Linked DNA regions of Homo sapiens: all the other regions are linked to region 1. Evidence: fine-mapped expression QTL. A gene starts in region 1. Each other region holds a variant in brackets. All regions are shown on one strand. Distances are from middle to middle.

Region 1 (10,301 bases):
TAGCATATTAACCTAAATGTTGTTTGTGGAAGATAAAATGTGTATATTTTCATAGTTTAAATTTCATTTTTCAAAACAAAATTCCAATTAAACATTTTTTTCCCAATTACTAAGAAATGTTGGTTCCCAGAGCTTTGACTTGTGGTCAAAGTGGTCTTTTTCTTGGGATAATGAGACCCTTCTTTAGAGTGGGTTCAATGTCTGTCTCACTTGCCAGACTATGGGGGCTGTGTGGTGGGTCCCACATCATTATTCCTGGAGATGGAATCTAGAATGAGGTTTGGCTCGGCTGCACGCAGTGGCTCATGCCTGTAATCCCAGCACTTTGGGAGGCCAAGGTAGGCAAGGCAGATCACTTAACTCAGGAGTTCAAGAGCAGCCTGAACAACATGGCAAAAACCCATCTCTACAAAAAATACAAAAATTAGCTGGGCGTGATAGCGTGCACCTGTAGTCCAAGCAACTTGGGAGGCTGAGATGGGAGCGGTGCTTGAGCTTGGGAGGCTGAGATGGGAGCGTTGCTTGAGCTTGGGAGGTTGAGGCTGCAGTGAGTCATGATTGTGCCACTGCACTCCAGCCTGGGTGACAGAGTGGGATCCTGTCTGAAAAAAAAATATTGCCTAGAGCTAAGTGGGGCTCTCACCTGCTCCCTCTCTTCTCTCTGCTAGAGACCAGAGGCCTTGAAGGAAGGAAGCCCAAGGGTCTCTCCTGGCTCTGCTTCCCCATCACTGCCTCCACTTCCCCGCATCCCTTTCCCTGGCAGAGGCTTCTTGCCACAGGGCTCTGGGCACTCACAAGACCTACAAAAGAAAGGTTCACATTCACATTTGTCTTCTCTGTAGAAGTGCTGGAGGCTGATGGGGTGAGGGGGAGCAGCAACAGTTGGTGGTCCAGAGTTCTACAATGTTGAACTGTTTTAAATCGTCATAAGCCCAGGAGGCACGGATTGCTACACTCCTCGTTAGAAACCAGAGTCTCAAAGAGGGTGAGGAGGTACCCAAGGCCGTGCTGTTGGTGGCACGGTGGCAGAGCTGGGGCAGGAGTTCTGATTTTCCATCTCATTCCTCTGTTACTGTCTAAGCAGAGAGCCTGGGTGACAGCTACCTACACAGAAGAAGGTATTCTGGGAGAGTTTCCTCCCCTCTCTAGGCCTCTATGTTCTCTGCAAAATGGAGATAATAAGACTGAAATGCACATAGTAGGTGCCAAATAAGTACTAGCTACATGCTTGCTAATGGGAGTCCTCCTGCACACTCACACTCTGCCTGGGCTCTGTAAGAACAGCCCGGAGCCTCCATCCAGTTTTCATCGCAGAGGAGGCGGGGCGGCAGCGTGGGCAGGAGCTCAGGCCAGGAGAATCCCTACTCTAAGTATGACTGTGTGATCTTGGGCAAGTGACTTCATTCCCTAAGTGTGTTTCCTCATCTGAACAAGGAGGCTATTGAAATGCAGGTGAGACCTAGTGAGACAGCGGCTGCGGGAATCACCTGGCCACAGTAAACGCCCTTGCATCCTATTGAGTGAGCCAAGGATAAGCGTGGTCCCTGGCAGGGTGCAGGATTCTATCCTGAAATACACCCCCTCCACTTTCTCCTATTCCAGTCCACCGGGGCCTCTCCTCCAGGCAGGAAACATGATCTCCTTTTGACCTATGAGAAAACAGACAGGAAGTTCAAGGCCACACAGATGTGAGTGTTAAGAACCCTGGGGGGAAGGTGTCTGAAACCCAAGGCTGTGTGTGTGTGTGTGTGTGTGTGTGTGTGTATGTGTGTGTGTGTGTGTCGGGGTGTGCTGAGGGGTTGGTCAGCCAGGTGATTTAAATGCGGGTATAGAACAATAGGTAGTGGTGGGGCCCCGAAGAACTTAGATTCCTTAAAGATATTTATTTTCTTTCTCTTTCTCTTTCTCTTTCTTTCCTTTCTTTTCTTGCTTTTCTCTCTCTTATTTTTTTTTTTTGAGATGGGGTCTCACTCTGTCCCCCAGGCTGGAGTGCAGTAGCACTGTCATGGCTCACTGCAGCCTCGACCTCCCTGGCTCAAGCGATTCTCCCACCTCAGCCTTCCAAGTAGCTGGGACTACAGATATGCACCACTATACCTGGCTAATTAAAAACAAAACAAAACAAAACAAAACTTTTTTTTTTGTAGCGATGAGTCTCACTATGTTGCCCAGGCTAGCCTTGAACTCTGGGCTCAAGTGATCCTCCCGCCTTGGCCTCCCAAAGTGCTGGAATTACAGGCATGAGCCACTGCACCTGGCAACGTATGTCAACTTCAAAATTTTCACTTTTTGCTCTGCTTTCCAATCAAAACAAACCTAGCAGCCTGAGTTCGGCCTTTGAGCTGCAAGTTTGAGACTCTGCCCCAACACTGACTTTATTGAGCCTCTGCATTGCATAGCGTGCACACCCCTGCTCACCCTTCTACCTGTGTGCAACTAAGGATGACAAGCAGGGTCAGCAGCAGAAGTGTCTTGGGGCTAGCTCTGCTGACAGTGATCCCTGATCAGTTCCTAGTTCTCTTCTGAGAAGACTGAGCCCTCTCAACCAGCATCATTCAGAGCAGTCTCAGGATGGTTAGGCCTATGGCTGTCCTCCTCTGGAAGGGCCCTCGTTTGTTCAGAAGCCTCCCTGGTTAAAGCAGGCAGAGGAAAATCACTCTTGAAAGCTCAACTCACTAATCACCTCCTCCAGGAAGCCTTCCCTGAATTCCTTGACAGGACTAGGTCATTACTCTGCATGCCTGGGCACCACAGCACTCTTCATGGGTAACTTTCACATTGCAACCCAGGGTCTAACCCAGTGTCTGACCCACAGTGGGCTCTCCATGCATGAAATGGGTGACTAAACTCACCTGCTGTGTGACTTTGGATCAGTGACTTCACCTCTCTGAGCCTTGATTTTCTTATCTGTAAAATGAGTTGAGGCAAGACAGCATTCAGAGGGTCCTTGCAGATGTGATTAAATAAATTAAGAGTCTTCTTGAGATGGAGGGATTAGCCTGGATTATCCAGGTGGACCGGAATGGAATCACAAGGGTCCTCATGAGCAGAGGCAGGAAGGTCAAGGGAGGAAGTAGAAGCTGGGACAATGGAAGCAATTGTTTTCTTGCCTGTTCTAGCTTCTGGAGGTCACCAAGGGGTCACAAGCTGAGAAACACAGGCAACCTCCAGAAATTGGAAAAGGCAAGGAAGAGATTCTCTCCTGGAGGCACCAGGAGAGCTAGCCCAGCCCACACCTTGGCTTTAGCCCAGTGAAACTGATTTTGGAGTTCTGACCTCCAGAACTGTAAAGAATAAATCTGTCTAGGCTGGGCAACATGGTGAAACCCACTCTCCACAAAAAATACAAAAATTAGCTAGGCTTGGTGGTGTGGTATGTGCCTGTGGTCTCAGCTACTTGGAAGGCAGAGGCACGAGAATCACTTGAACCCGAGAGGCAGAGGTTACAGTGAGCCAAGATTGCGCCACTGCACTCAAGCCTGGGCAACAGAGCAAGACTCTGTCATAAATAAATAAATAAATAAATAAATAAATTAATTAATTAATTAATTTGTGTTATTTTAAGCCACTTGTGGAATTTGTTACAACATCCCTAGGCACCTGGCACACAGTAGGTACTCAAAAGTGGCAGTTCTGGTCAGGCGTGGTGGCTCACACTTGTAATTCCAGCACTTTGGGAGGCCAAGGCAGGAGGATCACTTGAGCCCAGAATTCAAGACCAGCCTGGGCAACATAGCAAGATGCCATCTCTATAAAAAATAAATTGGCTAGGCATAGTGGTGTATGCCTGTGGTCCCAGTTACTCAGGGGGCTGAGGTGGGAGAACTGCTTGAGTTCAGGAGTTTGAGGCTGCAGTCAGCTATGATCACACCATTGCACTCCAGCCTGGGCAACAGAGTGAGACTCTGTCTTACACACACATATACACACATTCACACTCACACACAAAAGCAGTTGTTAGTACCTTGACCGCACACCCTCTTCCATCTGCCTGCATATTCCTTCCTCCTCTCACTCTCTGGGACACCCATCCCCTTTGCAACCCAGGGCTCCCTTCCTGCCCATCCTCTGAGGTCTGCCTCAATCGCCACCTCCTCCAACCCTTCGCTGAACTGACATCCAGAAATGCTAATCCCTTGAACAAATGTGCTTCCTTGAGTGGTGCCTGAGCTATGGCTCCCAAAGAGGCCAGGCTTGTGATCCTCTTTGTACCCCCAGCCCTGCCTACAGGGTCCAGTGGCCCCAGTCATGTAAACTTGATACCAAGGAATTTTCAAAACAAAAAATACCTAATTCCAAGGCCAGAAAATTGACTCTCCTTGGGGTTCCAGCTGGTCTCCCACCCTCTCCAGGTGGAGAAGCTAGTCTTGGGGACCCTTGTGTGGGAACCAGAAATCTCCCAGCAAGACCTCCTTGTCTTGCCTCCCACTGGGGTCCCTAGAACCAGCCTTCCCTTAGGCTCCACTCAGGAGCAGGTTAAGGTAAGGCAGGGAGGGCAGGAGACCAGCTCGGGGTGGAGATTGGGAGCCCTGGATGGATGATAGGGACTGTTCCCATTAATCTAGCATCTTAAAGCAGTAATAGCACTTACTGCATGCCAGGCTGTGAGCTAAATGCTTTCCACACGTACCTCATTCAATCCTCTCAACAGACCCATGAGGTAGGTACTATTATCCCCATTCTACAGATGAGGAAACGGAGGCTCAGCAAGTTAAGTAGTTTGCCCAAAGCCACCCAGCTGGGCATAGAGGAGCCACGTTTAGAAACCAGATTTGCCAGGCGCGGTAGCTCATGTCTGAAATCTCAGCACTTTGGGAGTCCGAGGCAGGTGGATCACCTGAGGTCAGGAGTTCAAGATCAGCTTGACCAACATGGAGAAACCCTGTCTCTACTAAAAATACAAAATTAGGTGGGTGTGGCGGTGCATGTCTGTAATCCCAGCTACTCGGGAGGCTGAGGCAGGAGAATTGCTTGAATCTGGGAGGCAGAGGTTGTGGTGAGCCAAGATCGCACCATTGCACTCCAGGCAGGGCAACAGGGGCAAAACTCCGTCTCAAAAAAAAAATACATAAATAAATAAATAAAAATAAACCAGATCTGTCATCCAGAAACCGCACTTAAAACAAGCTTAAAACAACACAGTTCGCACTGGGATCCAGCTCTGTCTTGCTCTTGACATTCACCCTGGGAGACGGGTAGCCAAGTCCAGTAGGAAGGACTGTGGGGACCTGTGTTGATTCTGTCCTGTAGCTTGAGAACCTGGACAGGGGACTTCACCACTCTGCGCCTGTTTCCTCATCCACAAAATGTGATGAGCCGACCTCACAGAGGGGGCACCAGGATCTAATGAGACCATGCACAGAAGGGGCACAGCAGGCCTGGGACAGAGTGAGGGCCCCCCATCTATCACAATACCTTATTTTGCAGATGCAGGATTCACTTGTCCCAGGTCACCCACAAGCTCTGATGCCTTGACCAGCTCCCCTCTGCCCTACCAAAGGACAAATGAGGGAGGCTTCGATGGGGCTGTTAATGGGGTCATATCCCACAGACCCTAGAGCCTGGGTGGGGCTGAGAGGCTTCCCAAGCAGGTGGCAGTGAGCTCCCACCTGAGCTATGGCAAGTAGAGACCTAGGCATGAAATTGCTCCGAGGTCTGTACCTTAAGTTTCATGCAAGGACTCTCTCATTCAACATGCCTCTGTTTAAAGTCTGCCAGTGGCTACCTTCCTTGCACTAGAATTGCAAACAAATTCCTCACTGAGCTCTCTGCAGCCCTGCAGGCTCTGGCCCTCCCGATATGGCTCTGACTTCAATGTGCCCATTACTTGTCCCCTTGCTGACGGCCTCCTCACAATTCCACTTACTCACCAAGTTCTCTCCTGCCTCAGGACCTTTGCACTTGATGTTCTTTCTGCCAATGATGCTCTTCCCAGGAGGGCAGGCCCCTGTAGTCCCAGCTACTCAGAAGGCTGAGGTGGGAGGACTGTTTGAGGCCAGGAATTCAAGTTCGGCCTGGGCAACACAGCAAGACCCTGCCTCTAAAAGAACAAAATGCTCTTCCCAGACTCTACCCATGGCGGTTCCTCTTGCTATTTAGATCTTTGCACAGACAGGCCTCCTTCTCTCTCCCCCAGCCAAGGAGCCCTAGCCGTCACTTCACCTGCTAATTTTCGTCCTAGCACTTACTGCTCTAAAATTATCTTCGTCATGTATCTAAGCATTTGTTTGCTGTCTGTCTCTTCCCACCAGGATGCCAGCTCCACGACAGCAGGGACCGCATTGTCTCTGCTGATTCCTCAAGACTCAGCAAGGTGCCAGGTGCCCAGTAAATGAAGTTTACATGAAGCCAATGGAGTTTTGAAATCGAAAATGTTTCTCAAACTGCAAAGAAGTGGGCACAGGTGAGGGCTAATGGTGGGGTGAGGGTGGGGGCCTGGCCTGACGCTGGAAGCTCCTGTACGCAGGGCGCTAGTGTCCTCCCAGGCCGCACCGGGATCCCACCGCAGAGGCCCCCTCCCGCAGGCCGGCCAGCGGGCGGGGGGCGCGCAGTGGGGCGCGCGGACCGCCAGGGGGTGCTGTCGGGGCGCGCACGGCCCACCTGGCGCCCGGGGCCGCGAGCGAGCGCAGCCAGGCCGCCCGGGAACTTTTTTCCTCGCGCTCTTGCTCTCCTTCTCCCCCCGCGCGTCGCCCGCCCGCCCGTCCGCTCGTCCGCTCTTCCTGTGCGGAGGGGATCGCATTCCTCGCGGCACCCGCGGACACCAGGCAGGCCCGGCCGGGTGCGCGGCCAAGGCCCGCTCCCCGCGTCCCCGGGCGCCGCCCCCGCCCGCGGCTGGGCTCCGAGAGACGAGTGGGAGAGCGAGTGCAGCGAGGGCGAGAGGCGAGCCGAGCAGGCCGCCCTGCCCGCGGCCCTAGCGCCGGCGCGAGGAGGGGGCGCCGCGGCCCACCCTCCTTCCTGCCTGGCCGCGGGCCGGCCGGGCCGCCGCGCCCCGACCCCCATGGCCACCCAGGCCTCCGGGCCGCGAAGTCGCAGCGCCAGACCCAAGGCCCCCGAGTGAGCGCGGGCGCCGAGGTGAGCAGCGAGCGCCGGGGCGCGGGGGGCGCAGTGTATCCTGCCCCGGGGCGGGGGCGGCGCGAGGCGTCGGGATCCTAGGCCGGGTGATGAGCCGAGGCGGGTTCGGACGCCGAGCGCGCGCGCTGGGTGGAGATGTGGGGTCCGCGGGGTCCTTGCTTTGTGTGGTGTGGGGGGTGCGCGAGGTCACCGGATGGACGTCTGGGGAGCTGCAGGGTGGGGGCGCCCTGCGCCGCGGCTGAGGGTCTTCTGGGGGATGTGCGGCCAGCTGAGGTCGGGTGGGGGCATGGGGGCGCGAGGGGCGAGTGTGGCAAGGGATCTGCTTGCGCCGAGGCGCGGAGTCTTTGCGGAGCGTGGGGTGGGGACGTGGGGTGCATTCGCGGGGCGCCGGGGGCGGAGGTGAGCTTTGTGAGTGCGTCCGAGGTGGGGGACGGGGAGCTGACTTCCCCATGCGTGACCCGGGCCCGGCGTGGCCATCGCTTGGGAGTCAGGGCCGGCGAAGGCCGTGCGTGGCGAGATGGGTGCTCGGGCTCTCTGCGGTGTCCCTACCCGGGCAGCGGCCCCGGGGCCTGTGCGCAGGCCCCGAGGCCGGGCAGGAAGCGGCCCCCGCGACCTGGGGAGCTCTGTAGCGGCCAGGCCCGGGAGGCACGGGCCCTTCGGGGATGACGTCACGGGCGGGGGCCCCGGACACGCGAGCCTTGCGCCCCACAGACGGCGGCGCAGCCCGCCGCCCTTTTCGAGGCCGGCCCCCCCTCTCACGCGCCTTGAAGGCAGGGAACCCGGGAGGAGGACATGGGGGCCGAGTGCGGCGGGGACAAGGGGTGGCAGGACGCGAGGGTGACATTTGGAGCCTGGTCGCGCCAGGGGCCTCCGTGGTGGGGCGGAGGGGAAGCGAAACACCAGCCAGGCCCTAGGCCGTCGCGGCCCCAGCTTCCTGGGGCGCCCGTTTTCCCGGCTAGCAGTTTTCTTTCTTGGGGCTCTTGGTCGTTATCCAGTCCACGCAGGGGCCGGAGTGCGGGCTGCCGCGGTGCTCTCCTGCGCGGAGCCCGGGCTGGCGGGGGCGCGGCGGGCCTCGGGCTCTGAATGGATGGGAGCGAGTGTAACAATGCGCCGGTGGGGGCTGGGGGAGGGGAGGCCGCGCGCCTGAATGGCGGAGCCGGCCGGGCGCTGCTCCGCGCGCCGCACACTCTCCCGCGCCGCCTTCCCCGCGGTTTCGGCGGGCCCGGATTCAGGGACCCACTCGGGATCTGCACGGTTCCTCCCACCAATACTGTCCCCCGCCCCCCTTTTATGTCTTTCCAATGCAGTAGTGTGTTGAGAATTCAAGGGCATTACATCTGGTTGCAATCCAGTTTCATGCCGCTGCCGGGCTGTTAAGACCTCGCGCTGACGTCAGAGCAGGGGAATTACTTCTTTTTATTTTATCTTTTTTTAGTTGTCTGCTGCCCTGGGAGGAGAGGCGGGGGTGGGTTAGGCTAGCTCTGATGTGGAGGCGCCAGCGTGATGGGAGCCCCGAGCTGGGGGCTCTGCTTCTCTTCCTGCCCCTGCCCCCCTCCATTCTCCATACAGTCCTCGCTCTGCTCAGGGTCAGGCCCACCCCAGGTGGGGGGCAGCCCTCGCTGCAGACTGAATGGTGGCCCCTCCCTGCTGACCACACAGCTGGGTTTTCAGAGGCTTTCCTGGGACGTGGCCCTCGGGATCTAGAAACTGGAAAGGAATCTTCTAGTTTCCCACCCCTCCCCCTCTTGACAGGCAAGCCGGTATATTCGGGGCCCAGGAGCAAGGAAAAGTGGCCTTTTGCGTGACACAGAAGTGGACACATCATTCTGATCTCAGGGCAGGCTCAGCCCCATAACTCTGGCAAAAGCTCTCACAAGCAAAAGCCTTGGAGAGGAGGAGAATGTATCAAGGTGAGATCCAGGCCCCAGAAGCCAACTGTGGAGTGGGCAAAATAGGACCTTTCCCACCAGCCTAGCATCCCTCTGGCTTCTGTGGAGATAAAGGGAACTCAGGGGTACTGGAGCTGCCTTTCTCTTCCACTAGACTGTGGGGCTCTCATAGGCAGGGACCCTGTCTTACTCCTCTTTGTTTTATTTTTGAGACAGGGTCTTGCTGTGTGGCCCAGGCTGGAGTGCCTTGGCACAAACACAGCTCACTTCAGCCTCAACCTCCAGGGCTCAAGCGATCCTCCAGCATCAGTCTCCTGAGTAGCTGGGATCACAGGCGCCCGACACCACACGTAGCTAATTTTAAATTTTTTTTTTTTTCTAGAGACAGGGGTCTTGCCATGGCTGGTCTTGAAGTCCTGGGCTCAAGCGATCCTCCCTCTTTGGCCTCCCAAAGTGCTGGGATTACAGGAGTGAGTCACTGCACCCAGCCTTACTCCTCTTTAGACTCCCAAGCCTAGACCAATTGCTTTCAAATTCTTGCCCGTGACCTATAGTAAGAAATACATCGTAGGTAACTACACAGGTCACACTGTATATAGCTGAAACAAAAGTTTACTGAAATAACTCCCTTACTGTGTCTGCTGGTCTGTAATCCTTTTTGTTCTTGTGTATTTGTTTTTTTTTTAATTACTGATTGCTACCCACGAAATTAATTTTGCAATCCACTGATGGGTCATACCCAGAATTTGAAAAAAACAAGCCTAGGAAATGAATTTGCCATCTATTCATGCAACAAATGTTAATTGCAACCCTAATAATTCCTCTCATGTTAAACTACTCAAGTAACACTTGGATACTTGGGTGAAAAATGCAAATAAGCCAGAAATATATGTAGTAAAAGTAAAAGTTCCCTTGGCACCCTCCCTGCAGGTAACCCCAGTTAATAGTTTGAACGTATCCTTCCAGACTTTTTGTTACTCACTTAATGCATATATATATATATATATATATATATATATATATATGTATGTATGTATGTATATTACATATACCAATCCATGCATAGTTTTCTTTTTCCCCAAGTGAGGACATACTGTGGGCTCTTCCTCGGCAGCTTCCTTTTTCCTCTCCGTTTGTCTTGGAGAGGTTGGTTGTGTGGCGAAGTCCTTCAGGGCAAGTTCTGGGTTGACTCCTGGCTCCACCACATACTGAACAGGCCATTTACCTCTCTGTGCCTCAGTGTCCCCATCTTTACAATCAGGAGAATAACAGTACAGACCTCACGGTACTGAAGTAAAGATGCAGTGAGTTAATCCATATGAAGTTTAGAGCAGTGCTTTT
Region 2 (10,301 bases), 23 kb after region 1:
AGGAGGCAGCCAGGCTGGGGCCGAGATTGATGTGCTGAACATGATTTATTTATCTGGATTTGCTCTTGTGGTCTGGGTGTTACCTGGGTGTGGAATTTAACCAAATGACAAGATGGGTTTGCGTGTGTTCCTGAGCTTGGGGATTGTGTGTGTGTAAAAAGTGAGTTGGGGTTTGTGTACATGGCAGGGGGTTGCTGTTAGGTGGCTTGTGTGTCTGTTTGTCACTGGGACCAACGTGTGGTTGTGTGTGTGTCTGATTTGGGGAAATGAGCTGAGGGTATGGGTGCTTACACACCAGGCAGTATCCACAGCAGGTCACACGTTCTTTGTGTGTTGGGGGCACCTCTGTGTGTGGCCGAGTAGCTGTTTGTGTGCATGTCCTGTGGTGTGAGACCTGGATCTCTCTCACCCACTTTTCATCAGTGGTGGGGCATTGCGCACTGACTGAGTTGCTGGGGCATCTGCTTTTCCATCCGGCCCTGGGTGAGCACTGACAACACCTGACTGTCTTCCAGTAGAACTGGGCCTTCCTGCCCTGCAGTCCAGAGACTAGAGGGAGTTCGGTGGTCAAGGTGGTCCAGGCCCACAGCCATAGCCCTAATGCAAAGCATGGCTCCTACTCCAGTGCGCTGCTGTGGGGTGACCCTGCTCCTCCTCCCTGGACCTCAGTTTCCTCTTCTGCTGCAGAGGGCAGGCGCCCAGGTCCCTGTGGCTGCTCTCACACACGGGCTTCTGGGTGGCTCATGGCAGGCTTAGGGCATTGGGCTGGGGTTTGTCTCCTGCCACTCAAGAGTTGAGTCCCACCAGTACTCAAGAACAGCAAGGAATGATGGGAAAATCCCTGCTTTGGGGCCCAACTCTGGATTCTGGGCGTTGTCTCTGTCCCCCATCTAGGCCCAGCCCTGGCCCAGTAGTCAGGAAAGCGGCAGACAACCCTGTAACAGCCCTCGGTCTCCCCCTCCCCCCACACCCCTTTATATTGAATGTGTCTGTCACTACTTTCCTAATGAGGCTGCTGAGGGCCCCCCTGGGGCAGATACCTTTGCAGACCGGAGGTGAGGGGGTGGGCCAGCCTCAGGGTCAGGACAGGAAGGGGAGCTGAGCCCTTCCCCTGCCTGCACCCCCAGGCCAGCTCAGCTGTGGAGGCATTGAGGCCCCTCTCAGCCCCTGAGCCAGCTGTGAGTGGGCATGAGAGCTTGGGGAGGTAGGAAAGCTCACCCCAGGCACTGAGTTTTCTTTGGCGCTGTGACTCTGTAGTAATAATACTTCCACCTGGTCGATATCTATGTTTGGAGGCCTACTGTGTGCCAGGCACTGAGATCAGCCATGATCTGGATGGACACACAAAATCCCTGCCCTTGAGGGAGGTGTGGCCAAAGGAAGAAAGACATTAATCAAAGAATCAAGTGATCTGAGTCGTGCATTCATGCATGGGAATGCCGGCTGATCACAAGCCAAGACAGAGGCCAGGCAGAGCTTCTCTGATGGAGACAGGGAGTCCTGTGCTTAGACTGGGGGCTGATCCAGGCACTGGGTAAAGGCTCAGCCGGGATTGAAGGAATCAGGAGACCCAGATTCTTGCTGTGTGGCCTCAGGCAACTGCCCACCTTCTCTGGGCTCCTAGAGGCTGGTGGCTTCCTTCTGGCTCCCGTCACCTCTGAGTGGAACTCAGGCAGTATATGTCTCCTCTTCAGTGCTTTTTGCGCTCCCTGCCAGGGCCCTCAAGACATCTGTCGGCAACATCCTTGACTTTGGAATGCTGGAGGCACTGCCCCAGGGGACGCCTGGAGCCAAGCACAGCACCGCTGCCTCAGGCCCCACCTGCCAGTTCCTCTGGGCCCTTTTGCTCTCACAGAGCCACCTGGATCGAAGAAAGCCTGGAAAACATTAAATTGAAGAATTAGTCCCCTATTTTGCCCCAAAATTGCAGAGAAAAGCATTTATTCATGCATTCACTCATTCATTTGCTTGACTAGTGTTTCCTGAACACCTAGTAATTGCTGGGCACACTGCACTCCATGTTGGACTGAGATGGCAAAGTGGTGGTCCTCCTGCCACGTCCTGACCACAGACCTGTTTTGAAAGCCCATCCATTGTCGGGGGGCCGGGGGGGGGGGAATCAAATGAATTGCCAGTGAGTAATCGTTGAGTGACTTCATTTCCAATTTCCAGTTTACATTTCTTCTGGATTATTCTACCCTGCTTCCCCCGGCCACAGTTGGTGGAGATGGCTACTGTCTGCCGGGTAGGATGGCCCACCCAGCCCACCAGCTGGTCACGGTCCCATCCCCCACCACTCCACCCCACCCTGTGCCTCTCCTGGTCATGTCACACATGATAGTGTGGCTTCCTAGTTATGAGCCCAGCCTCAGGAGCCAGACTGTCGAGGTTCAAAGCTCACTGTGGCTTGTGGGACCTTGGGTGTCCCCCTCCAAGCCTCAGATTCCTCTTGTGTAAAATGGGATCACAAGAGCAAGTATCCACTACTCCTGGGGCTCTTGGGGAGATTAAGTGAGAAAATTTATGCTAAATCCTTAAAACTCACATAAGCCTTGGCTGCTATCGTTGTTGAATAAATGAACCACTTGCAGGCTGAGACCGGGGCTGTGTGTCACATGGCACCTCTAGGCCTCAGTTTCCTCAGCTGCTTCTTTGGGAAAGCACATCTGCTCTCTAGGTTGGGCCTCCTCCCTCGTCCTTCAAAGACCTATTCTTGGGGCCTGGGCCCTGTGAAACCTCTGGCTCTCGGACGCAGCCTGGAACCCCTGAGACGAGGTCAAGCTCCGCGGCCCGCCTCCTGTCGCCCGGCCCCAGGCGGGACTGCCTTGGCAGGACTCGGGCCGCGAGCTGGAGGCGCGGCTCCCGGCTCGGGGCTCCAGCGGCCGCGCCCCGCCGCCCCTCGGCGTTCGCGCGCAGCCCCTGCGGGGGTGGCCGCCATCAAAGCGTCTTCTCGTTCTTATGCTAATGAGCCCCATTAAAGCTTAATGGCTGCGAACGCGCGGGTTTAATTGCACCTGCCCGGGCCTGAGGCGCGGCCGGCCGCGGAAGCAGCTGCGCGCCGGCCGGGACGGCCTTAATTACCTGGAAAACGACGCCCGGCGGGGAGGGGAGGGGATGGGAGAGAAGAGGAGAGCAGCGGGGCCTCCGCGAGGCCGGGCCTCGTCCGCCGAGGCCGCAGTCCGGCCCCTCTCGTCCTCGGGGCGCGGCGCGTTCGTTTCATTAATTTATCGCCCTGCCTCGGCGGAGATCCGCTCGCCCGCTCCCCGGCGTTCAACCGCGCCGGCTTCGTGCTCCCCCGCGCCGTCCCCCGGCCATCTTGGGCTTGGCATTCAAGGCCCTTCGGGACCGCTGCTGCCACTGACCCAGTGCCACCCTGCTCTGCACGAACAATAATAATGGTGGTTGCACATTACGTGCCAGGCGCTCTTGAGGGTTGAATGTGACCTCGCAGAGACCCCAGATGCCTCATCTCGGCCTTACTCCCCTCGTCTTTAGAAGCTGGTACCTCTGCCTGCAACAAAGACCCCTCTCCCTCCTCGCTCATCCTCCCTGAAACCCACCCCTGCGCCTCCAACAAGATGAGCCCCTGTCCTCCTGGGATGGGATTGGGGATGGGTCTGGGCCCTTTGTTGAGGGGTGGGCTAGCCCATGGTGAAGGTTGTCTGGGTGTGTCCTCCCTCTGGACTGACATTTCACTGAGGCCAGTCTGCCTGACTGCCCTATCTCTGCATGCCCCTGCCATCTCCCTGGGGATGGCCCTGGGGTTGTGGGGGCTGCACTGCTGCCCTGAGCCTTCTGCCTAGGCAGGGGGCTGTGAGACTGATGGGAACCTCAGGGAAACCTTGAGACCTAATGGTATTCTCTGTGGGACTTCCCTGTGCTCCTCCCCACCCCATCAAGTGATCCTGGGATAGGCGCCTGCCCCTCCTCTCTCCCTCATTCCCTTCTCTCACTCTTCTCTTTTTGCAGAGGGAAGGAAAACGGAAGAGGGAATAGACAGACCGCTCATGCAGTTTTTAGATGGTCCCCTTTCCCTCCCCTCTCTCTTCCATGTCCCCTTGTACCCAGCCCCTCTTTTTTCTTTCTTTGAAGACC[G/A]CATCTTGCTTTGTTGCCCAGGCTGGAGTGCAGTGGTGCGATCATGGCTCACTGTAGCCCTCAACCCGTGGGCTCAAACAACCCTCCCACCTCAGCCTCCCAAGTAGCTGAGACTACAAGGTGTGCACCACCATGCCTGGTTGCCCCTCCTTTCTGCCCCTTCCAGTCCCATCCCTCCTCCCTTTGTGCGTCTCAGAGACCAAAGCCTGAAGCATTGCACAGTGCCCACTGGGAGGCCACCCAGCCCTGGTCCTGCCTGTGTCAGGCAATGCTGAGAGCACAGAGGGGAGTCAGACTTGGGCTCTGCCCTCCAAGGACTCCAGTCGGGGAGGCAGCGCTCGAAAGGAATACTTGTCCTCTAATGGAAAAAGGACCAATTTAAAGGAAGCAGAGAACAGTCTTTGAGCTCAAACTGGGAAGGCTGGGAGAGGCTTCTAAGCTCAGCCTGGAAGGAAGGATAAGTGTGAGCTAATTGGCAGGAATAGCATTCCAGGTAGGGAAACAATTGGAGTTCAGCCCTGGCTAGGGCAGAACACTGGCTGACATGAGGGGAGAGGGAGTAAGGGACAACCACAGAAAAACTGAGCTCACTCCAAAGTGTGGAGGCATGAGGCTGGAGAGGTGGGCAGAGGGTCCTCTGTTGCCTAGCAACCTTCACTGCCTCCCTATTGCCAAGAGGACCAAATTCAGACCCTTCAGTTGGCACAAAAGCTTGTACCACCCACCTCATCCCAGGATGCAGCCTATTATCTTCAGCTGGGTTCCTCACTACCAGGCCAAGCCTCGGATGATGATTGTGAGCCTACTGTATATGGGAAGGGGGGATAAGCAGTGACCCCATCAGGGCTAATAGCAGTGGGGCCTGCTGCCCAACTCCATGCCCCTTCTCCCATTCTTGTCCCCAGATGTCCTTGCAGACAAAATGGAGGTGAATGGGCAGGCTGCCAGGAGCGTCAGGTGGCATCACAGCCGGGTAGACAGTCGTCACTGATTAATGAGGTGGTAGAAACCTAGAGGGAGGTCCCTACTGGCATGCCTCGGGGTTCTGCCCTTGCTCTGGTCAAGGCAAGGAATGAGGCTCACAGGGGTTTAGCACCTCCCTGCCAGGCTATGTGAAACTCTTGGTATCCAGTAGTTTATCACCAGCCATGAGGTGGCTTCTCTTAATATCTCATTTTGCAGATGCAGACACTGAGGCCAGTCGGGGTGAGGAGTGAGCTCAAAGTCACTCATCTCCGAGGTGGCAAAATTAAGCCTCAAACCCAGGGCTGTGTGACTTCAAAGCCTGTGTTTGTAACTGCGGAGCTGTGCGGCATCAGTAATGCATCTGCTGCTGCTGCCAGACGTGAGGAGGTGGGGCCCTGCCTTTCAACTTCATCTCTCTGACAGTGGTTAGCACTGTACTTTACGTGTAGTAAGTGCTCAATAAATGCTTGTGGACTGGATGATTGGGGCAGTAAGCAGTGAGCAGGGCTCAGAAGCAGTGGAGAGGCTCCATCACTCTTCCTCCCAACCTGCACCTCCACCCCCAGGAGTTGGACAGCGGCTGTAAGGGGACTTGGAGACTCAAGGCTTCCAGGCAGGGAGTGGGCTCACAGGAGGCTAGGGAGGATCCAACTTCCTGTCCAGGTCAGGGTCAGGAGGACAGCCGCGCCCCCTACTGCCCCGCTGGGAGGCCAGGCTGACGTAGGAAGGCTGCACTGCAAGTCAGAATCATCAGCAAAACCTGGGGAATAGAGCGTGTGAGGGTTTCCATGCAGGGTGGGGACTGCTTTCTGATCAAGCCCCTAGGCCAAAAACCTTTGGAAGGGACTCTCTGAGGGCAGTGCATTCTTGTAGCGTCGGGAGCAGGAGTTCTCCCATAACCTTTTTGGGGTGGGGACCCACCTGTGGCTCTGGAAAGGTGTTGGCTCCGGCTCTGGGGCTCAGGGGGAGGGGGCCATTGGTGGGCAAAACAAGCATAGTGAAAACTGAGGCTCATAGAGGTTAAGGTCACAGAGCAGAGCTGGGTCTGTTTTCTTTTTGTTTCTGTTTTAGTTGCAACAGGGGCTTGCTCTGTTTGCCGAGGCTGGAGTGCAGTGGTATGATCATAAATCACTGTAGCCTCGATCTCCTGAGCTCAAACGATCCTTCCGCCTTGGCCTCCCAAAGTGCTAAGATTACAGGCATGAGCCTTCATGCCTAGCTGGGACTGTTTTCAAACTCCACCAACCCCTTTTCTTTTGTTCCATTCCACTCTGCCCAGAACCTTCGTCTGGCTTCCCAGAGGGCCCAAGTCCTTGTCTTCAGAGGTCCTGGCTGGGGAGCCTTAGAGCATGGTCTTCCCTCACTCCAGGCTTCTCGGGTCTCCCTATTGGGGACTGACCGTGGGAGCAGTGAGCCACTGTGCACCAGGGCAGCCCGGCTCCTCGGGGGGTGGCCCAAGCAGTCAGGGCGGCAGGCTTGATGGGCCAGGGCCTGGGGACTCTGCCATGGTGGACCATTGTGCCCTTGCCTGGCTTGCCAGGAAAGTGGAGTGCGTGTGCTCACCCTTGCTTCTGAGGGGCCTTCCTGAGGCAGAGGCTGTCCCTGGACACCCAGTGCTGTTGAGGCAGCTGGGGACACTCAGACCATGGTGGACAAAGACTTGAAGTCTCGTTTCAGCCCTGCACAAGGTGTGACCTTGGCTCCAGCACTGCTCCCTCTGGGCCTGTCTCTTTCTCAGCAGAATCTGGGACTGGCCACATCATCTCCAGGGGTTCTAGCATTGGACGCCTGAAAGTGGACAACATGGCAGTGTGAGGGGGCTCTTTGTGGTGGGGTGGTCAGAATGGCCCTCCATGTGGGGGGCTCTTTGTCTCCCCAGGGCAGTCCTTAACCACCAGCCAGCCTCCCCAGGCACCCGTGCCGGGCAGTGGGGTGTGTAAAGGCCTGGCACACACAGACAGGAGTTCCGATCTCAACTCCATCCTCATGAGCTCTGTGACCTTGGTGAGTCCCTTTTCTGTGTAGCCTTTAACTCTCATCTGGAACGCAGGATATGCATAGTCCTGACATCAGGACGTTACCATGAGTAGTAAGTGAAACTCCCACTTCAGGTCCTTCGCCTGGTGTCCAGGGCATGGGAGGAGCTAATACGTGGCCTCTGCTGCTTGTGTTGTTATTGGTGGTGGTGTTTGAGATGTCCTTAGAGATGTTGGCCAAAGTTTCCAGTTCCCCACCCTCCCAAGCCCGTGGGGAAATTGTGCTTCCTGGTGGTTTTTGGGTGGGGGGGCCGGGGGAGGGTCATGTGACCAGTTATGGCCCGTGAGGTGTGAGCAGAAGTGACATGTCCCTTCTAGGCCAGAGCCTTTCATGGCCATGAGGATCCACAGAACTCACTTTCCTCTGGTAGACCAAAGTCAAGGTGGCAACTGCTCAGTGAGAGGGAGCCTCCCTGCTACCCCAGTGGATGGTAGTGTGAAGGATAAACCAACTTTTGTTGTTGTGAGCCCTTGAGATTTGAGAGTTTTGTTACAGCAACATGGCTAGCACATCCTGACTGATTCTTCATCATCATCATCATCATCACTCAAGCCTGTCCCCCGGCCAGGGGTCCATCCAGGAGAACAACAGCCATGGAGGAGACCCGTCAAAAAATAGAACTTTATTACCAATCTGTTTCTATAATTGTTTGACTCATTTTCTCACTCATTTGTTTGCTTTATCACCAATTTCTTTACATCATTTATTCCTTCAAAAACATTTCTTGGCTGGGTGCAGTGGGTCACGCCTGTAATCCGAGCACTCTGGGAGCCCAAGGCAGGCAGATCACCTGAGGTCAGGAGTTTGAGACCAGCCTGGCCATCATATAGTGAAACCCCATCTCTACTAAAAAATACAAAAATTCGGTGAGCTGAGATCGTGCCATTGCACTCCAGCCTGGGCAACAAGAACGAAACTCCGTCTCAAAAAACAAAAACAAAAACAAAAACAAAAACGAGCCAGGTGTGGTAGCACACACTTGCAGTCCCAGCTACTTGCAAGGCTGAGGCAGGAGAATCGCTTATACCCAGCGGGCAGAGGTTGCAGTGAGCTGAGATCGCACCACTCTACTCTGGCCTGGGCGACAGTGCAAGACTCCCTCTCTCAAAAAACAAACAAAAAGGCTGGGCACGGTGGCTCACGCCTGTAATCCCAGCACTTTGAGAGGCCGAGGTGGGCAGATCACGAGGTCAAGAGATGGAGACCATCCTGGCCAACATGGTGAAACCCCCTCTCTACTAAAAATACAAAAATTAGCTGGGCATGGTGGCGCGTGCCTGTAGTCCCAGCTACTCGGGAGGCTGAGGCAGGAGAATCTCCTGAATCCGGGAGGCAGAAGTTGCAGTGAGTTGAGATCGCACCACTGCACTCCAGCCTGGCAACAGAGCGAGACTCTGTCTCAAAAAAAAAAAAAAAAAAAAAAAAAGGCAACAAAAACCAAACGCCACTTGACCACCTGTTTCATAGGCCCTGAGGTAGCGCACAGGCCAGCAGGGAGCTATGGATCATTCTGCAGAGCCACGGTGCTTGCCCAGAGGTCAGCAGCCCTATGGGATGCTTGGGGTGGGGCGTCAGATTTGCAGAGCTGGGGCGAGGGAAGGAATGGCACTTGGGGGAGTGGGTCTGCTGGAGAAAGGCCTACAGGTAACAGGAAGCACTAGGCAGTTGGGTCCGGCCAGCAGGGATGGGACCGTGTAGTGGCCAAGCTGGAGGGGGACTTTGGTCCCTGGGTCATGGGGTGTGCAGTGCTCTGCACTGAATGATGAGAGGGCATGCATAGGTGAAACAAGAGGCCAGCTGCTGAAGGGAGGAAGACCAGGTAGGCAGCTGGGCCAAGGATCCAGGTGGACAAGGGCTGGCATGGGTCTGAAGAGGAAGAGCAGGGCCAGGGAAAGCCCAGGGCTGGATGGCCAGTGGTTGTGAGCTGCACCAGCAGCCAGAGGGAGCCGGGGACTGGATGGGGGTGGCCCTGTGCAGTGACGGGGAAAGTTTGAGGGATCAGAGTAGAGTTGGGGCACCCGAGCGGCATCCAGGGGAGATGTCCAGGATGTAGGGTGGTGAATGGACAGGACATTGAAGTGAGAATCACCCCTCCTGCCCATAGACAAACCATTGGTTTGAGGGTGGGGCCTGCCCTGGGAGCCGGGAAGCACACATTTCTTCTCTGTGTGGGCTCAGGGGAAAAAAAGAATTGAAACTCCCACAGGGGAAAAGTTTTTAAAGATTCCACCATTGGAATGCTGGTCTTGTGTAACAGGAATGTTTTAATCCATGCATTTGAAACACAGTTATTGAGATCCTACTGTGAGCTGGGCTCTGCCCTAGGTGCCCATGGGTGAGCAGACAGACAGCGATCTCTGCCCTGGTGAGCTCCTTCCTGTCTTAGTGGGAGACAGGCAGCTAATGACGAGCAATCTGGGGCATGCTCCTTAGTCCTAAGCTACTCAGGAGGCTGAGGCAGGCAGATCGCTTGAGTTCAGGAGTTCGAGGCCAGCCTGGGCTACATAGCAGAACCCCGCCTCTACAAAAAATACATAAATTAGCTGGGCATGGTGGTGTGTACCTGTATTCTCAGCTACTCAGGAGGCTGAGGTGGGAAGATCGCTTGAGCCCCGGAGTTTGAATCCAGCCTGGGTAACATAGCAAGACCTTGTCTCTGAAAATAACTAAATACTTTTAAAAAGAAGATAGATGTAGTGAGAAAAAAAAGTAGGTGGGGAAGGGGCTCAGGGATGGGGGAGATGCGTGCAGTTTTAAATTGGAGTGCCAGGAAAGGCCTCCCTGAGAAGGTGACAGGTGAGCAAAGACTCGAGGGAGGTCAGTGAACCTTGCAATGTCAAAGGGAAGGGCATTGCAGGCAGAGGGAATAGCAGTGCAAAGGTCCTGAGGCAGGAACGTGTTTCCATGTTGCAAGAACAGCAGGGGAGCCACTGTGGCTGGAGGGGACTGAGAGAGGGGAGAGGGTTCCTGGAAGACTGTTTGTTTATTTGAGACAGGGTCTCACTCTGTCACCCAGGTTGGAGTGCAGTGGCATGATCTCAGCTCACTGCAACCTCCACCTCCCAGGCTCTAGTGGTCCTCCCACCTCAGCCTCCTGAGTAGCTGGGACCACAGATGCGTGCCACCATGCCCTACTAATTTTTTGTATTTTTGGTAGAGACGGGTTTTTGCCATGTTGCCCAGGCTGGTCTCAAACTCCTAAG
Region 3 (10,301 bases), 78 kb after region 1:
TGTGCCTCAGGGCAGGGCCCTGTCTGTGGCCTGGCACACAGTAGGTGCTCGGTTTGTGTTGTTGAATGCCTCCATTCATCAGGTTGCCTGAGGCTTCCTTGGTGGGTGGTGCCGGCTGTACTGGCCCGGGACTTGGGAGGAAGGGAGACAGATGTGCCTTCAGACCCAGACACAGAAGAGTTTGTCTCCAAAGCCAGGGCACTGGGTCAGTGTCTGGCCTGGACCCCAGGCCCGAGGAGCCTGGTTTGGTGTGTGCCCTTGGTGAATGGCCTACTGTGCTGGCCAGACAGGAGCCCCAGGGGCTGGCCCTGCCTCAGGAGGAAGGCAGGGTCACAGACACAGGCTGGAGGGGCCTGGAGTGAGGGCTGCTCAGGACCCCTGCCGACCAGACCTGGGAGCCCCAGCATCTGACTCTTCGTTTGTGTATTACTTGCTGTGCCTTGTCCTGGCTTGACAGGGTTGGAGTGGGGGTTGGAGTGGTAGAGCAGCGAGAAAATCTCCACACCCCTTACCCCCATGGCACTCCCACAAAACAAAAGGGAGCTAAACTCATGAAATCGGCTTCACGGTTATACATGGATAGCCTTTTGGGAGTTGGGTGATCTCTGGGGTATATACATTGTTTCCTCACCAACACCAAAAGAAAATGCAATTTGAGCCAAGCTAATAACAATGTATTAAATCAGAGCTTCCTGAGCTTTGCTGGGTGCTATAAACCACCCCGAAGTTTGTACTAGGAGCAGATTCCTGGGCTCAGGCCACCCTCAAATCACAGATTTTAAGGGGTGGGGCTCAGGAATGCCCTTTTATTCAAACTGCCTGTGTGTGGTTTTGATACTCAGTCTTAAGTCCATCATTTGAGAAATGGAATGACAGATATCTGTGTCTCAGAACACATTTGAACTCCTCTCCAGGCTCTAGAAAGTCTACCGTTCTCTGCCCCAGACCCTGGCTCCAGATTCAAGTCTAGACTGGAGGAACTGTGGATCCTTTGGGATTTGGAAAAAAGTTCTAGACCCTCTTCAGAAAAATGTGCTTGTCCACACACACTTCAACTTTGCATTGGATCTCAAGGTCTCATACCTGGGCTGGGTGGTCTGTAAAGCAGGGGAGACCTATTTGGGGAAAGGCCTCCATGCTGACACTCACCTGAACCTAGGGCCAAAGTGTATGGTTGTACAAGTTGTACATTGTACAAGGATCCCTGGAAGAAATCGAGCCACTGGCCAGCTGTGCAGCCTGGCACCTGGGGTGTCTTCCTGTTTTGTACAAAGGCATTTTATGCCATTCGCCTAACCCAATCTTTTTTTTTTTTTTTTTTTTTTTTTTTTTTGAGACAGAGTTTCGCTCTTGCTGCCCAGGCTAGAGTGCAATGGCGCGATCTCGGCTCACCGCAACCTCCGCCTCCTGGGTTCAAGCAGTTCTCCTGCCTCAGCCCCCCGGGTTCAAGCAACTCTCCTGCCTCAGCCTCCCGAGTAGCTGGGATTACAGGCATGCGCCACCACACCTGGCTAATTTTGTATTTTTAGTAGAGACGGGGTTTCTCCATGTTGGTCAGGCTGGTCTCTATCTCCCGACTTCGGGTGATCCGCCTGCCTCGGCCTCCCAAAGTGCTGGGATTATAGGCATGAGCCACTGCGCCCAGCCTCCCTAACCTGATCTTTAATTCCCCTCCTGCCTCCCATGACAACTCAAGTTAGTGGCACTAGTAAAGTTACAGAAATTATGTGCCTTAGCCATGGGAAACCGGCCCTCTGTAAACTGTTATTAAAGCCATAACAAATAATATCCGACAGCCTGTACCTACTAGTGTTCAGTTCCTGGTACTCCAGAGCCCTAAGCGTTTTTGGGCAGTGGTTGGGGGGCTGCCACCAGGCCTCAACTTGGGTTAGGAAGATAGGGCAAGGGTGCAAGGCCCGTCTCTGCACAGAGGGTGGGAGAGAGGAGTAACTACATAGTAGGTGCTTGGTAAGCACTTTCCCAGTCTACATTCATTGGGTCCATTTTATAGATCAGGAAAACTGAGGCTCTGAGAGGGCTGGTAATTTGGATTAGAGAAGGCCCACCTGTCTGGAGCGGCTTTATGAACACAGGCTTTGGAGTGCGACAGCGGGGAGGTCAGGAGAGGAGAGGAAATAGCCATAGCTGTACCCCCACAACATTCACACCATGCCTCCCCCTGAAGGCTTTGCCTGACGTTTGGACTGTTTAGAGGGCTCCTCTGAGCTCCCACAGCCTGAGCCTTCCTGTCACGGTGCTGCCACCCTGGTTTAGCAGGCCTGTTTACACACTGTCACCCCAAGAGCCTGGCAGCACCCCAGTGCTGGACTGTGAGCCCTCCACACAGGGCCCAGCGCATGGTGTGTAATACAGCTCTATGGAATGCTGAGTGGCTGATTAAGTGGGCTCTAGCTTCTGGCAGCTTTGCTCCCTGGGTGGATGGGGCGGGAGTGATGCAGAAAGGAGAGGTGTAGGCCTAGAGTTAGGAGGGCAGGGAGAGCACTGGGCACTGGAACCACTTGGCAGGGTGAGTTGGCATTCCCTGTTTGCCACGACCTTGGGGTCACCCTCACCAACTTGCCCCAGCTGGGCCTGACTGAAGGGCAGGGGGCCTGGACATTGGAGCCCAGGGAGGGCAGAGGGTGGTAGACTCAGGAGAGAGCTCTTTGTTTGGGGGCATTTCTCCAGCAGAGACCCTTAGTCCCTCCAAGGAGCATGTCCTCCTCCATCAGTCAGTGTCCTAGCCAGCAGGGGTGCGTCCCCCCAGATCCTTCCCTGCTTATCCTATCCTGGGCCCAGCCATGCTTTCTCCCATGGGGTCATGTCATCCTGACCCTCAGATTTGGCTGGGTCGCCCCAGGGCTCTCTGACAAAGCCCAGCTCCTCCCCTGGCACCCAGCATCCCTCAGACCCGGCCTACACCCTGTCAAGCCCGCCTTCTCTTCACCCCAAGGCCTGCCGTGCCTCACAGCTTGGGCAGGGCTGTACCCTCTGCACACATCACCCTTCCCTATCCCCAACCCTCTCCCTTTAGTGATAAATCCAGCTGGCCGCTCTTTGCAGCTCACCAGGGACCAGTGTCCCCAGTGCGGCCCTCGGTGCACCCAGTCCTTACGTGAGCCCTAGCCACCATGGAAAGCCAGGAGGGCCTGGCCAGCCTCCATGTGGGGTCTGGTTGGTTATTGCAGGGCCTGTTGGGACTGCCTGTGTCCCTGTTCCCCTGGGACAGGAGTTCTGGAGCCTGCGAAACTTAAGCATCCATCATGGGACCTGGCACGGGGGTGCCTGGCCACAGCAGGAGTGAATGAATTTTTTTTTTTTTTTTGGAGACAGAGTTTTGCTCTTGTTGCCCAGGCTGGAGTGCAATGGTGTGATCTCGGCTCACCGCAACCTCTGCCTCCCAGGTTCAAGTGATTCTCCTGCCTCAGCCTCCCAGGTTGCTGGGATTACAGGTGCCTGCCACCATGCCTGGCTAATTTTGTATTTTTATTAGAGACAGGGTTTCTCCATGTTGGTCAGGCTGGTCTGGACCTCCTGACCTCAGGTGATCCACCTGCCTCTGCCTCCCAAAGTGCTGGGATTACAGGTGTGAGCACTGCACCTGGCATGAATGAATTTTTTTATTTTTGGAAACTCCTTTGAAATAGTGTGTTTGCTTTCCACTGTCTTGTTCTTCACCTTTACCTCCCTTACGTATAAAGGTAGATGCAGTCAAGTAAAGTGTGCTAGCTTCAAATCAGAAAATCTCCATAGAGTCTTCCGCAAATCCTTGAGCGCCTACTACGTGCTAATCTGTCCCAGGTGCTCAGGACACAGTGTGAACAAAATAGACCAAAAATCCTCTTAGTGAAGCAGACGCTTGAGTCGGGGGCACTGGAGAAAGCAAATCAGTTCGTCGGTAACGAGGCAGGGAAGTGGACGGGGAGGAAGAGGGGCTTCTGTGAAGGTGTGCTTGGCCAGGCCTCAGGCTTCCCACCTGTTCACTGGGGTGATGTGCTTGCCCGGTGGGAACGGTATTCTGTTCATGACTGTTGCCATTGTTATTAACCGCATGCCCATTGCCTTTCAGAGTTTGTGGGCCCTCTCGGGCAGCCCCCAGAGGGTGCTGAATGCCGGGCCCTGTGTACACTTCACCCTATCTCCGCGGGGTCAGGCTGGCCACCTCCATTTACAGAGGAGCAGATGGAGGCCCAGGGAGGGATAGGGTGGTGTCACATGCTTGGAGCGGGGTCCAGGGAGAGCTCTTGGCTCCCTGAGGCAGGGAGACCCTGAGCCCAGACACACCCCAGTTTATAAGTGGGGACAGCTGTGGAGGTGTTGGGTGCTCAGCCCTGGGCCTGGCTTCTCTGGCCTGAAGACGGCAGCTCATCTGGCTGCAGAGTCAGGAAAGATTTCCTGAGCCTGGACTGAGAGGCCAAGGTGGGTTTGCGGAGGCAGGAGAGAGCTCCAGATCAGGAGGCAGTGTGGGCCAAGCCGGGGGGCGGCAGGATGTGAGCACAGAGAGGGCAGCAACCCTTCTACAGACCAGTTCAATTCCAGTAACCCCAGCCTGCCGTAGGGGTGGGGGACAGCCTGGCTGCAGCGGGGCCCACCTGCCAGTGTGTGCCTTGCCTGCGCTCCACCTTCCCCCTCGGGCACTGCGGCTTTCTTGGGACAGCAGGACCCCAGTTAAACAGCCCTGTTTCCTGCCCAGCCGTGGCTGCCGCCTCTTCTCGGAGGATTTTTTTTTCCCACAACTCAACAACCACTACCACTTGCAGCTAAGCAGAAGGGAAGTTAGGACTCGCATTTTGCCTCTGTAGCGCCTGTAATCAGCCCCACACAGCCCCCGCCGCAGGCGCCCATCAGTGCCACTTCCGGAGACTACTTGAGATACACCTGCTCACGCTAAAAGGAGAAGCAGTAATCCATCAAAACAACCCCAGGCGCCGGGGCGGGAGAGGCTGAGACTCAGTTTCCCCTCCCATGGAACAGGGCAGTGTTGGGCATCTGAAGTCCCCACGGGTCCTGGCATTCTGGAAGAACACGACTCAGTAGCTTTCCCCTTCTGGGCCTCGGTTTCCCTGTCTGCCAAAGGTGCAGGGAGATGAGCTCCCAGCTCATGCCTCTGGGCCTCCTACCTCGCCCCCACCCTCATCTCTCCCTTTCCAGAGACATTATAAATCAAACGGCTTAGAACGTAAGGCATCAGAAATTCTGAAACCTTCATCTATTATTAACGCTGACAGTAAATTCCCCCTCCGAGCGTTTTACATAGCAACTGTTACCAAGACTCGGTGGTGGAGCTGCTGCTCCAGCGGCCGCATCCCAGCAGCTCCGGGCAGGATGGCAGGGCCGCCACAAGCCCTACCAACCCGGCCACCACCTGGGCACTCAGCAAACCCTCTCCAGGGGATGGGCGGGGAGGGAGCCTTTGGCAGAGGAAATGGGTGGCTTACAGCTGAAAGGAGGTCCCAGCTGCTTTTGGTGAGCCCTGAAGACCCCAGCTCCTGCCTAGGTGAAGACAAGGGGCCCTGAAGCTCCCAGGCCTTCAGAGGCAGCACCTATGGACAGGGACGGGCTCCGGGAGCCTCCCTTCCTTGCTGCCCTGGTTAGAGGAAGCTTGTGAGATGGAGGAC[A/G]GGAAAAGGCTTCGTAAACTGGAAAGGGCTGTGCAGATGTTGTTTACCGACTCACCCACCTGTCAGCTAGACGTTCCTGAGTGCCTGTTTCTCTGCAGGCAGTATCTGGGCACCAGAGATTTAAAACAAAGACAAAAGGCCCAATCCCTGTCGCATCTGGCTTGGTAGGAGACAGACGCGCCAACCCCTAATTGCAGTTGTGCAATGATCAACGTATGTACGAGGAGCATACTCAGGGCGGTGAGGATATCGCAGAGGGCCCTTCACGGGGGCTGATGCTGGGCAGGGTTTTGAAGGATGAACAGGGGAGGGTCTGTGTGTTCTGGACAGAGGGACTGGTGTATGCAAAGGCCCAGGGGTATGAAGCTGCCCAGCTGACAGGTGGATTACAGGCTGACCTGTTTTGGTGGGGAGGGGGGCTGGTAGAGGGAGCAGGGGTCAGAGGGTGCAGGACCTTGAATGCAAGCAAGAGAGTTTTTACTTAGAGGTTCTGGTCGCCATGGAAGGTTTTCAGCTGAGGAGGAACAAAGATTTGGGTTTGGGGAGTATCACCCTAATTGCGCAGATAAGGATACCAAGGCCTGCGCAGGTGAGAACACCTGCCCAGGCAGGAAGCAGGGGAGGCTGGCTGCTCTCTGCAAGCTGTTAAGATGCACCTGCTGTATGTCCATCCCCACATGGGGAAGGGTGGTGTGACCTCAGACCCTGGGACAGCATGCCTAGAGAAGAAGAAGCGGGCAGGGAGCTTGTGGGCTCTTGCCAGGTCAGAGTGGCCAACTACGAGGAGTTGTCTCACTCTTTGCATCTCCAGAAATCAGGACACAAGTTGAGACACAGACTTCAGCCCAGCTATGGATGCGTCCGTTGGCAGTCTCTCCACCTAGTGACAAATAATATATATGTTCATTGCAGAACATTCAGCAAATAGAAGTCTCAAGAAAATAATGTTTCCCTGCAGTCTCACCCCACCACCCCCACCCTCTGATGGCCAGGTCACATTTTGGGCCCAGTTGCTCCAGAACCAGGTACAGATACACATTTTTTAAAACAGAAGTTGCATCATGTTCTTTCTGCATACCCTCAGTGACCTGCTTTTCGCCCTTCATACGCTGGAATAGTTCCCCATGTCTGCACATATTTCGGGGTGAGGTTTGCCAAGAGCCACGCTAGCCAGAGGGGACCCAGCTGACCTAGAATGTTCGGTGCTTGTCTTCAAGGGCAGAGGCCGTGCCTGGCCTGCCCACTGCTGCACTCAGCACCAAGCATGGAGACAGGCCCCCAGTGGATGCTGAATGCAGAGCTGTGAAAAGAAGTGGAAGCTGTGTCCGTGAAGCTGAGTACAAGTTGGACAGAGCCCACTAGGATGCTGTAATCTTGATCTGGGGCTAAATTGAGTCTTGGGGTAAGATTTGTGCTTATTAAGGGCTCTGGATGCTTGGGGTAATAGATGGAAGTTTTTCAGGGAGGGCTTCCTGGAGGAGATGGGCTGTAGAATAAAGCAGAAGGGAAATAAATGCATAACTGTCCATTCACTCATCTAACAGACATCCCCAGAGGGCTCCCTCCTGGTCAGAGCCCTGTGCTGGACAGGACTAGGCACCCAGACAGAGTACTGCCCCCACCTGCTGCCAGCCCTGGGGGAAAGACAGACAAGTGCCCAGGTCACTGTGGCTGTGTGCTCGAGCAGTGCTGTAATGGTGGAAGGGTAGACAGTGAGGGGCCAACTTTACTGATAGCCCCCACTTTACTGATATCCCCCACCTCCTAGCCAAAGAAGTTGGGGATTGATTTATGGGAGGGAGCAGTTTGGCATCAAGGTGTGCCTGTAGATGATGGACTTAGAGGGCTCAGGAGGGAAGCCCATACATCCTGCATACTCGGGATGGGCTTGGCATCAGGGTCAAGGTCACCCAGACTGTACCCAGAAGTTTGGCTCAGCCCAGTGTCCCTGGCCTGGGAACTCCTGGATGCCGAGGGTTTATGGCAGCTCAGTTAGTGGCCTAGCCCTGGGTCCCCGCCATGGAGAGGGGCCCCTGACGTCCAACGTCCACTCCCAGAGTCCCACACCAAGGAGGCCCCCAGCCCCACCCAGAAGTCAAAGGGTGTATCTTTCCAGAGTCTAGAAGCTGGAGCTGCTGTGGGGCCTGGGCCTTGGTCTCCTCGGCTGTCAAATGGTGGCACCACCCTGCAGGGAACGTGTGGAGCTAAAATAAAATGTGTTCCAGGTGCTGGTGCCACAGGGCTTAGGGCCACACTGCAGAAAACCCTTCCTCCTGCTTGGTCCTAGCTGCCCAGGGCCAGGCCAAGAAAGGCTTCAGGAAGAAGCCCCCACCTCCTAGCCAAAGAAGTTGGGGATTGATTTATGGGAGGGAGAAGTTTGGCATCAAGGCGTGCCTATAGGTGATGGGCGTAGAGGGCTCAGGAGGGAAGCCCCGCAGATTACCCCCTTGCCAAGAACCTCCTAGAACTGCATACTCAGGGGATAGGCAGCTCATTCACAGTGAAAGTGTTTTGGAGTCAAACAGACCTGGGTTCAAGCCCCAGCTCATTCACTTCCCAGCTGTGTGACCTTAGGCTAGTTCCTTGTCCTCTCTGTGCTCAGAGTCCTCATCTTTACAGTGGAAATGATAATGATAGACCAGTATTGTCCTGAGGGTTGAAAGAGGCGACCCATATGTGAGTGCCTCAGCACAGGGACTGGCACATAGTAAGTGCTTGGCAAATGAAAATGGTTCTTCTAAGGCTTTTTTTTTTTTTTTAACTAGTGCCCAAGGAAGTGGGGGTGGCAGATTCCTCACTGGTCTCTTAGGTTCCTGGCACACATGCAGCCACCAGATTGAGCCTCTGGAATCGTACCAATCCATTTACCAGCCCACGTCATTAGCTTTTTCTGAGCACCTACTCTGTGCCAGGCACAGGGGCACCATGGTGGAACTGGAAGCAGCAGGCTCGCTGGGAGGCTGACAGCTGTGGATCCTGACCTGTGGAGTGGCCAGTGCCCCGGGGGATGGTGGAAGGGGAAGAGGGTATCTAGGGCAGGCATCAGTTGGAAAGTCACAGTGAGATTTGAGAGGAGGTGATCCCTGAACTAGTGACAAGGCCTACTAGCATTTTGCCAGGCAAACTAGGAGCAGGTGGAAAGGTTGGGAGGCACAAAAGGTTGGGAGACTCCCAGAGGGTGCCAGTAGCTCCTTGTAAGTCATTGTTGCTGGGCATGAAATTTGGGAGCTGGGGAGGTGGGTGGGAATCCCCTGTGAATGCCAGGCCAAGGAGGCAGGGACAGTGTCTGATTGGTGACTGGGGCCTGGGCAGCATCTGAGCAGGGAACACAGTTGAGTGGGAGAAAGGTGGTGGTCACTGAGGAGCGAGGGCAGGTGGGGGGATGGAAAGGTCTCAGGACAGGGGGCCCAGCAGGGAGGGAGGCATGGGAGGGAGGTCTCAGGGCATCCAAGGGACTTTTGGTTGAACCAGAAGTTCCTGAGTGTGAGCGCGGCCCAGAAACAGCCACAGGCCTCATCCCTGCACTGGGCTCGAGGCTGGAGTGCCACCAGCAGCTACCCATCCATTGGGCATGCGTGTGTCTGCTGTATGCCCTGACAAGACAGATGGACTCTGCCCTCACGGAGCTTACCAGTGCAGAGAGAAAAGAGAGTGAATAAATATACGAGGGAGGTGATTTTGGAGAGTGGTAAGAGCTAGGGACTAGGGGAGTTCCCTTAGGCAGGGCAGTCAGGGAGGGCTTCTCAGATGAGGTGACTGGGCTCATTGGAGAAGACCCAGGAGGATGGCGTCCCAGGCGGAGGGAACAGCATGTGCAAAGGCCTGGGGGTCAGGGGCATGGCATGTGTGAGGAGCCAGTGGGAGCCAGTGTGGTTGGAGTGTGCATGGGAGCGGGGTGGGAAATGAAGCTGGGGAGGAGTACCCCTAACCTTAGACAGCTAAGAGGTTCAAATTTAGTTGAGGGAAAGTTCTGACTCTACCCCCAGCAGCAAGGGAGCTTCCCCACCAAAGCAGGAGATCTGGCTCTCAGCATTCACTTTACTTTCCTGTGTGACCTTGAGCAAGTGGCCCACCCTCTCTGGGCTTCCAGAGTCTGTGGCAACACAGAGGAAAGTGAGGTGCTTGCTCAGAGACTCGCCAGCTGTGACTGGCCAGGGGTTTGATCCCAGTCATTTCTGCTCTGTGGTGGGGGACTTGTCGGGAGGGGCAGGTAGAGGTGAGCTCAGTAGAACCAAGAGCCCCCAGGACACAGGGCATCCAGGAGGCCTGTGCTTCCACAGCCTGTTCACTCCTTCATGCACCCGCCTCCCCCTCCCCACTGCACTCCTGCCCACACTGCCCACTCCCCAACCCCCTCCTCTCTCTAGGGCTGAAAGCAAGAGGCTCCCATGGGGGCTGGCCCGATGATTGGCAGAGTCGATAAAGGCCACTTGGAAACCCTCCTGCTCCAGGTGGTTCCCCGCTGGCATTTGTAGCTGGGATTCCGAGGCCAGAGCTGAACCCAGAGATCATTTATCACACAGCCTCAAATGGAGGCTTTTCTGGAAAAAAAAAAAAAAAGTTCTTTCTCTGAGATTCCAACTTGCATTGTCTAAAACAGGTTAATTGGCAACACCGTTTCCCCCAGATCCTTCCCTGCATCCCCCCGCTTTCCTGGGGTGGGAATGGCAGCCCCTGGAAGTA

The links.
Region 2: its variant is fine-mapped to the expression of RAI1 in whole blood (TOPMed, PIP 0.93).
Region 3: its variant is fine-mapped to the expression of RAI1 in whole blood (TOPMed, PIP 0.94).

The regions. Positions count from the first base shown.
Region 1 is chr17:17,674,723-17,685,023 of GRCh38, forward strand. It overlaps RAI1 (retinoic acid induced 1), which reads left to right and starts at 6,736. Exons shown (of 6, transcript NM_030665.4): 1 at 6,736-7,071. SMCR2 (Smith-Magenis syndrome chromosome region, candidate 2) reads right to left here and starts at 2,966. Exons shown (of 4, transcript NR_131243.2): 1 at 2,853-2,966; 2 at 1,488-1,649; 3 at 644-800. RefSeq lists enhancers at 682-1,310, 6,777-7,378 and silencers at 6,457-6,966, 6,997-7,136, 7,197-7,276, 7,288-7,460, 7,447-8,396.
Region 2 is chr17:17,697,524-17,707,824 of GRCh38, forward strand. All of the region lies in intron 1 of RAI1 (retinoic acid induced 1), which reads left to right. LOC124903943 (a long non-coding RNA gene) reads right to left here. Exons shown (of 2, transcript XR_007065650.1): 2 at 27-10,301. Among named protein-coding and RNA genes, the nearest start is that of RAI1, 21 kb to the left of the region's middle. RefSeq lists enhancers at 1,206-1,724, 1,725-2,242, 2,722-3,233 and a silencer at 8,652-8,946. The variant G/A (reference allele first, on the strand shown) is at 4,096.
Region 3 is chr17:17,752,889-17,763,189 of GRCh38, forward strand. All of the region lies in intron 2 of RAI1 (retinoic acid induced 1), which reads left to right. RAI1-AS1 (RAI1 antisense RNA 1) reads right to left here. Exons shown (of 2, transcript NR_130894.1): 2 at 6,266-6,498. Among named protein-coding and RNA genes, the nearest start is that of RAI1-AS1, 8.3 kb to the right of the region's middle. RefSeq lists enhancers at 1-68, 4,648-4,747, 9,777-10,301. The variant A/G (reference allele first, on the strand shown) is at 5,619.